3 separate regions of the Homo sapiens genome follow, and all the other regions are linked to region 2. Evidence: fine-mapped expression QTL. A gene starts in region 2. Each other region holds a variant in brackets. All regions are shown on one strand. Distances are between the middles of the regions.

Evidence for each region. PIP is the estimated chance that this variant, and not a neighbour inherited with it, causes the effect.
Region 1: its variant is fine-mapped to the expression of EXOC4 in tibial artery (GTEx, PIP 0.97).
Region 3: its variant is fine-mapped to the expression of EXOC4 in testis (GTEx, PIP 0.96).

Annotation. Positions count from the first base shown.
Region 1 is chr7:134,063,766-134,066,513 of GRCh38, reverse strand. It overlaps EXOC4 (exocyst complex component 4), which reads right to left. Exons shown (of 18, transcript NM_021807.4): 18 at 753-2,223. The coding sequence ends at 1,986. Among named protein-coding and RNA genes, the nearest start is that of LRGUK, 62 kb to the left of the region's middle. The variant C/T (reference allele first, on the strand shown) is at 1,303.
Region 2 is chr7:133,251,692-133,254,529 of GRCh38, reverse strand. It overlaps EXOC4 (exocyst complex component 4), which reads right to left and starts at 1,452. Exons shown (of 18, transcript NM_021807.4): 1 at 1,343-1,452. The coding sequence starts at 1,428. RefSeq lists enhancers at 1,366-1,425, 1,636-1,685.
Region 3 is chr7:134,058,231-134,060,730 of GRCh38, reverse strand. All of the region lies in intron 17 of EXOC4 (exocyst complex component 4), which reads right to left. Among named protein-coding and RNA genes, the nearest start is that of LRGUK, 68 kb to the left of the region's middle. The variant G/C (reference allele first, on the strand shown) is at 1,342.

The sequences.
Region 1 (2,748 bases), 810 kb before region 2:
TTCCTGTGCAGAATTGCCATTTTCAGTCCCGTCATTGTAAGCAAAGCAGAGATTTCACTTTCCTAAATGTTGCCCCTGAAACAGCTCATCTGCCATTTTTTGGTTGGTTCTCAGGGCTCTTGACATTCTGCTCAATCCAAACCCATGTTTCTTTTTTAGCGGAGCTTTCCACTACTTCCAAGAAAATTAGTCTGAGCACTCTCAGTCTCACCCTGGCTCTGCTGCCATCACTGTCACCACTCCGGGTTCTCCGCCTGGAGTGGACAGGAAGAAAAAGGAAAGGTACAGAATCAATGCTGGGGGTCACGGCCATGAAGCAGCAGCTTAGGCAACCCTAATCTCCTCTCATCCCCCCTTCTTCCACTCCTGCTTCTAGGGTAGACTATTTCTCATGATATCGTTTAGGGCAGTATGTTTTTCCACAGTTGTCTCCTACAGAGATTCAACTTCTTCCCAGTCAGGCCCTTGGAGCCAGACAGATTGACTACATTCTTTCCCACCAGAATCCCCTGGAACCTCCAGCTGCCCACTGAATCCCCTTCCCGGCAGCCCCACTGCCTGACCTGATTCTGACCCAGCCCTGAGTTTGAGCTGTTGGGATTTTTGGCTCCAGTCCAGTTCCCACACTCTTAGATAATAAGGGTGTCCTCTTCATCTATCCATTTGCCCTTGTGTGTGGTAGCATGGAGCACATATTAGGCTTCTGGGGAATATTTGCTGAATAAAGAACACAAGAAAAATAACATGAAACATTTAAGCTTCTCAAAACACTTTTTAATTCTCCATTTTTCCCATCAAGACCAAAGTTGTACAAACAGGTACAAAATCCCCCACCTTCAGGGTGTGAGGCATCACTGTGTGTGGTCAAAGTCCCATCTCCTCCCCTTTCCCTTTCCACGAGTTTTCAAGATGTGGCCCAGTCAGTGCATTGCTGCCTTCTATGACCTATGAACCATGGGCAGCAAGAGGACTGGTGACCGGGGGACATGGTGAGGTCCAGTGTGCCAGGAACATGGTAAGTGCCCACATTGCGGGGGAGGGAACAATTCAGAGACAGGCTCAGCTGGAGGCCGCACAGAGGAGAAATGTCACTCTGTCCCATCTTCCCTGCATTCAGCTGAGCTCAGACCAAGTGAGCACCTAAGAATCATTTACCCCCAAAGGATGTTTCAAGTGAGATGCAATGTTCTCTAACCATTATTCTCTCAGAAATTAGGGGTGGCGGGGCGGGAATCAAGCAGATGTTTGAATTGCCTTTCATTCCTCCATAGTTGTCTAATTGTCTGGCTCTTGGTTTTTATA[C/T]AGCAGAAATAAAACAAAATGGCAATAAACCAACCTACAACCTGTGTACAAGATACAGCATACAAAACTGTCCCAGGGACTGGGATCAAAAGACTTCTATTCCTAGCCCTAAATTAGAGGTTCTGTTTTGGTTAGGGAAGTTTGTTGTAAACAGCAGCTGAGAAGCCATTTATTTGATTTTGGCAATAGAGACAGACAGCAATGCACATACACTTATTTCATTGAACTGTAAACGGATAAGGTCAGGAGAGGAAAAACCCTACTGTTTATGTAATAGAACCCTACTAAATGGTTTTGGAAGGGACTAAAAGTTAGGTAGCAGCCTACTTTCCTACTTTCCAAGGCTGGAATTATATATATATTGAGTAATAAATCAAATATTAGTAATCCATCCACTTGTTTTTCAGAGTCCAACAATTTGATACCACCTTCCTCCCTATCCCACCCTAGTCCCGTTAGATTTGACTGCATTAAAGTAGTTGTTCAACCAAAACACTCTGTACTGTCGCCTTCCTTTAGCATTTATATGAAAAGCCAAAACCAGAGAGAAAGAATCCTTACACCTCCTCTCCACTAAAGTATCACTGTAGAGAAAACTAAGCTCAGAATATACTCAATAACATACCAAGGAAAAAAGTGAGTGTGACTGAGGGGACCCCCGTCACCAACCGCAGTACGCCCTGCTAAACGGTAGTTATCTTCTTGTCCTTGGTGGCTTGCTTGATGGCAGCCTGCTCGCAGATGATCTCTTTGAGCCTCTGCAGCCTCGTGTTCTGGGTGGTCAGTTCCCCCACCCCAGTCTGGCTGCGGTGCAGCAGGGTCAGAGCGTGGATGTACTCCAGCTCCGTGTACTTCACACCCTGGTCCACCACCAGGTTCAGGAGCTCGTCAGCTGTGTTGTAAAGCATCTCGTAGTACTGCCTGAGAAAGCAAGAGAGAACACTGCTCACTGGCTCCCCACTGGTAACGTCGTCTCGAGGGGACAAATACGCTGTCTATACATTGATTCCTCTACTTACTTCATAACGATTGATCAGCAGGCAGTGTTCTAGGCCCCACCAACAGAATAAAGAACAGGACAACCATAAGCTCTGTCCTTTGGAGCTCATGGGAGCTCTCTTCAGGAGAAGTCTAAGTGAGGACCCAGGGAGGCCGCATACCTTTCTGTGGCTCAGCTCATTCTACATTTTTTTGCTAATTTTGCATTTACCTTGGGAGAAAGGAAAGAAAAGTAGGGGTATAGCCTGAAGAAGGAGAGAAGGCATTGTTAACAGGTTTTGTCTCATTCAATCCCTCATTCATTCATTATTCATTGGAGGTTTTGTAAAATACTGTACATGGTTTTCTGCTCCATAAAGTGGGTTAATAATAGTACCTACCTCTTGGGGTTATTGAAATAGTTGAATTAATTAATACGTATAAAGCACTCAGAATGGTGGTGCTTCA
Region 2 (2,838 bases):
AAGTTCAAAAAAGGATCCAAATAATGTCCTGGTATTCTAATTCCACAGGAAATTCAGATGGGAAACAACAAACATTCTTATTGGAATTTTAGTATCATGAGATACATCTACACTACCTGCGTATTGTCACAGCGAGAATGTGGGCCTATAGATTCACAATACAACAGCACTTCCTCTGTATGGCCTACCAAGTATATTAAGCATTTCCACACAGAGATGTTTTTCTCTTAAGCCCAAAAGAAAATTAAAGTAATGATTTAATAGGCCATAATCTTAAAGCCTCCTAAATAAGACCCATAAGATGTGTCTTTGTCAGTGAGTGGTAAGCTGTTCTAATGGTTTGATACATGCATTCATTGAAGTGCTTAGTACCTACCAGATAATGTTGGGCCCTGGGTTTTGAAAAGATGATCAATACATTCCAGAAAACTTGCAAGAACTCAAACAAAAGTTTAGTATAGGTGGGGAAAAATAGAGTGTTTGTTTATGAAAAATAAACGAGTTGAAATTCAAATGCCAACAACGTAAAAAACGTGCCATAATAAATTTTATTTAGATTGGTTTTAGTCAGTACCTGCATCATATCCAAGATTCTTGAAAGGGTTCCCCCATCCTCAATATATTTCGCTTTTTTAAAAAAAAGCTCCTAAAAGATCCACCGCTCCCACTCCACCCCCACCCTAATCTTCTGGGAGGTGCAGAGGGGCAGTGCATGGAGGATAATTTGAAATTGGTTTGGTTCTGTTTTTTAAGGAATGGACCAGAATGCGGAGGCAGGGCAAAAAATTGAAAACCGATGTGTGCCTTCAAACCCAGTCCTCCTACCAGCTCACTGCAGATTCTTGTATTTGTGGCTGTGGCCACGCACAGGTGGTTGAAAGTATCCAGAGTGTGAAAACACAAATCTGCAACTCGTGACAGGAATCTCCGGACTCCAAGGCCTTACACCCCAAAGTCCAGGAAACAAGACGCCTTTCTCAGTGAGTGCTGCTACAGGCAAACAATAAACAAGCATTTTAGGAATCAATAAACACACCTTTACACCTGGTTTTCTCTACCAAACCCAAATAGCGTGCTTTGGGGTCCCGAGACTGTAATAGAAGGTGCTGCCCCTAAAGAAAAGACTGAGGCGGGGCTCCTCTCTCTATAGCTAACCCCAGAAAAAAAAGGTGGAGGGGGAATTGCTGGGGCCCTGGGGAGGGGTTAGAGCCCTGGGGAGGGGCTGCGGGAGGCAAGGAGGAAAGGGGAGAGCAGGGTGGGACCCAGCTAACCCTTCTCCCTTCCAAAGCGGAGGTCGAGCCGCTGCCCCCAGTCCCCAGACCCTGCCTCCTGCCTCCCTCACCTGATCACAGAGATGAGCAGCCCCGAGGGGTCTTTGCTTTTGCTGACTGTGCTTCTGTATTTCCCACCAGCTGCTTCTGCCGCCATCTTGGACGCGGGGAGAGCCGCTAGGCTCCAAGGAAGCCAAGGGTGCGTAAATTCTGTATTTGACCCCGCAGGAGTCTCCACCAATGGGTGAAGAGAATTCCAGAGGCGCGGAAGTGGAAAATCCAATCACTGAAGTGAGGAGGCGGGACTAAGGGAGCAAGTTTTGAGGCCACGACGCGCGTGTTCTCTCTAAGCACTCTGGGAGTCGTAGTTTTCCTTCTCCGTCTCCTGGGCGCGCAGGAAAGCTAAACCAGCTGCAACTTCCTAAGTCTTGTAATGAGTGTCTTCATTTATCTTTATTCTGACTTCCAGCTTTTTTCAGTTTCCTTGCTTTTAGAATTTTGTCAGGCTTTAAATCAAATTTATCTGATGATGCCAAAATGTGTTAGGGTTTGTATTTAAATGAAAGAGGGGTTCTCTGCCGGATGTCTATGTGCGAAGTTTTTGCCTTAAGTGCAAGTGATTTTTTAAAAAATCCAATAAAATACGAAAATGAATATAAGCAGAAATGCTTTTCTTTAGTATTCTGTAAAACTAATGTTTCTACATTAGGTTTATGTGGAGTTCAATTTTTCCCAATGTTCCTATATTTCCAGATAGTTCTAAAACCACACGTACAGGAATAAATGAATATTGATGAAGAAAAGACAGTATAAGCTAAAAACAAACAGACCACACTGCAGATTCCTTTTTTTTTTTTTTCAAGCTAAATGAAATACTTAGTAGTAATGCACATTTGTGTTAATACTTTTACCGGTAAGTTTTTAGTATTTCCTGCATTTGGTTCCGTTGGCTTAGTCATTAATTCATAAGACCAAATGAACAAAACAAAACAAAAAAGACCAGAATGTGCGTGGAAAGTGGTTAGACTGAGGAACAAGAATAATAATAATTTAAAAGTAAGGAAGGAGGTGGCCTGCTCAGTAGCAATAAAGATTGAAGAACTTAAAGGAATAGAAAGCAAACTAACTCAGAGGTCATGGAGTTGTGAGCAGCAAGCTCAGAACACATCAATTACTTTTATTAAATAGACATCGAGCTGGTAGAAGTTCACATTTTTAAAAATTAGTTGAAGATAACACACACACACACACACACACGATAACTTAAAAGTATTCATAACCTTTGGCCCAATAATTCCAGTTCTAGGGACTTTGTTCCTAAAGAAATATAGAGTATTGACATTTTTTAAATAACACAGAAGAATTAAATAAATTATGTAACATTCAAATGAGGAAATAACATATAGCTTCTGGAAATCATAATTTTAATGGCTTTTAAAGAAAATAAGATTTTTGGGCCAAGTGTGATGGCTCACACCTGTAATCCCAACACTTTTTGAGAGGCAGAGCCGAGCAGACCACTTGAGGCCAGGAGTTTAAGACAAGCCTGGCCAACATGGTGAAACTC
Region 3 (2,500 bases), 810 kb before region 2:
GTTTCACCTGGAGGTGGGGAAAGGGTGCTACCAGGTGTCCTAAAGAGAAAATAGAAAAATGCCCCAAACTATACCATTAGAATGAGCTTCCATGATAAACACTGTCAGACTGAAATGAAATCATGTCACCCAATAGGGATAAATAATTTATCAGCACTTATTGAGGCCCCAGGAAATTGAAAGCTTGGTCTTCATCATCGAGCATTAAAATAGCAGCCGTGGCTTCCAGGGCAACACATTTTCCATTTGATGACACTTTGCTGGGGCTGCCTGGATGGGATCAGTGAATGCACATTTGATTGAGACATTTTCTGGCTCATGGTTTGTAGCCCTTCACAGACTCTTCATAGCCTACAATATTCAGCAGTCAATTGCTAGATGTACACCAAATATCTTATTCTGGAGACCAAAGAGTTTCAAGTCACCCTGCTGGATGGAACATTCTGGAAGGAGATGTGCACCTTGCTGTGGCTTCTCCTACCCTTTGCTGTGTGCCTTTTTGCAGCAGTTCCCAAAGTATTATAAGCAGATAGGTGAGGGAGTAGAGTGACAGAGAAGAGGAGGTGTGACTTCACAGACTGGTCTCATGTGCAGAGTCTAGAACATAACAATGTTTATGCTTTGTTCTGGTGCAAACAGATCATTTTCTCTTATCTTCCTCATGTTTGCTTTATCAACAGACTGTTCTCTGTGGCTTTTTCTTTTGTGCTTTATTTTAATGGTATTGCACTGCGACTCTTTCTCCCCCATACATTCTGTCTGAAAACATTTCTACCAGGAAGGAAATACAGGGTATTTTGGAAAGGTGGGCAGATCTTTTTAAAGTTTTAAAACAAAATTTTATCTTCCTCTGATTGGAAAGTTAATACATATGCCATATAGAATATATGGGCCATACAGAAAGATTTCTCATAATTTCATCATAAAGATAAACCACAGTTTGGCATATTTTCTTGTAGTTCGCCCCCACCACATGTAGTGTTCTAGCCAATTTCTTTCTTATAGTTGAAATATTTAGGTTGAAACACAATTGGATACTTCAATTGTTTCCAATTATAAAGACTTACTTTCTCATGGATAGATTTCTAAAAACAGAATTAGTTAAAAGATAAGTATATTATTTAGGACACTTGACAATGCTGCCAAGTTGCTTTCTAAAAAAGCTCTATCAATTTATCCTCCTATCAACAACATATGGGCAGCATCTAACTCACATTCTTTTGATTTGCATGAGGTGGAACAATTTTTCATCTACTTATTTGTTTTTAATGTATGTAGGTATGCGTGTATGTATAAATGAATTGTTGATATCTTTTTATCTTTGAGTATTAGTGCTTTTCT[G/C]ACTTCTCTTTAAGAGCTTTTCATAAATTTTCATAGACAAGAGGCCAGGGAGTTTTCTCATCCCTGGTTCTACCTCCCAAGTTGGCATACTCAGTGCAAAAATTAGTACTGCATCTCTGAAAGTGATTAGAAACAGTTTCAGTTCCCTTCTTTGCAAATTGAGGGAAGAAATACTCACTAACATAAACTATTCCCGCCCATGGCAACTCTTGTTCCTGTACTTGTAGGCGTTCCATAAACTTTGCCTGTAGGGGTGACAGCAAGGCCCTGACTGGGGAACTGTCCAAGGTCTCTGAGGAAAGCTTTGCCTTTTGCCTTCCTTTACTTGGTAGAATTCAGAGTCCTAGATCCCGGAATGGAAACTGTGTTTTAAAATATACAGCTACGTCTCATGCTGGGTTTTGAAATCTGTCTTGATTGTAGAATATTAATAATAATGTCTAGCTTTTAGGTGCATTTCAATCCTTTTAAATAGGAACTACAATTATCTACGTTATACATATGAGAAAATTGAGATCTACAGAGTATTAGTGATTTGTCTAAGGCCTCAAAATGAAAGACTTTTGAGCCCTGTATTTACTCTAAAACCACCTTAATACAAAAATATTTGAAACTATAAAAAGCAAAAGAACTAACTGAAAAGAATATTTTTATCGCTGACTCATTTGAGTCTTGAGTACACAAATATGAATTAAATAAAATTCCCATACTCAGCTCTTTCTTTGTAATGCAATGAGCCAGTATTGTGGTGATTCAAATTCGTTTGTACAAACTTTGCAGTTATATCTGAACAACACTGGATTTGATCTGGGAATTCAGTGCTCTAAACCAAGTAATGCAGTCATGTTGTAAATTTAACACTTAATTTGGGAGTTTACAAGCAAGAGTTTTTGGCTTTTTCATTTTGTCACCTCTTTTTATTTCTTCCCTTTTTGCCCCTTCAAGTTGGTAATGGATGAAGTAACCTTTCTTTCCAAAAGTTGACTGTCCCTCTGATTCAGTACTTTTTTGGGGAAGGGAGATAATTATTTTCATTGTAAAGACTTTCTCTTGTAGTCCTTCCCAAGATAAAGCTCTAGTATTAATGTCAACAAGTGAATTCTGTGCTGAATCTGACTTCTGAAATACAAATTTGAGAGGGAGAAAAATTGAGCTGAAT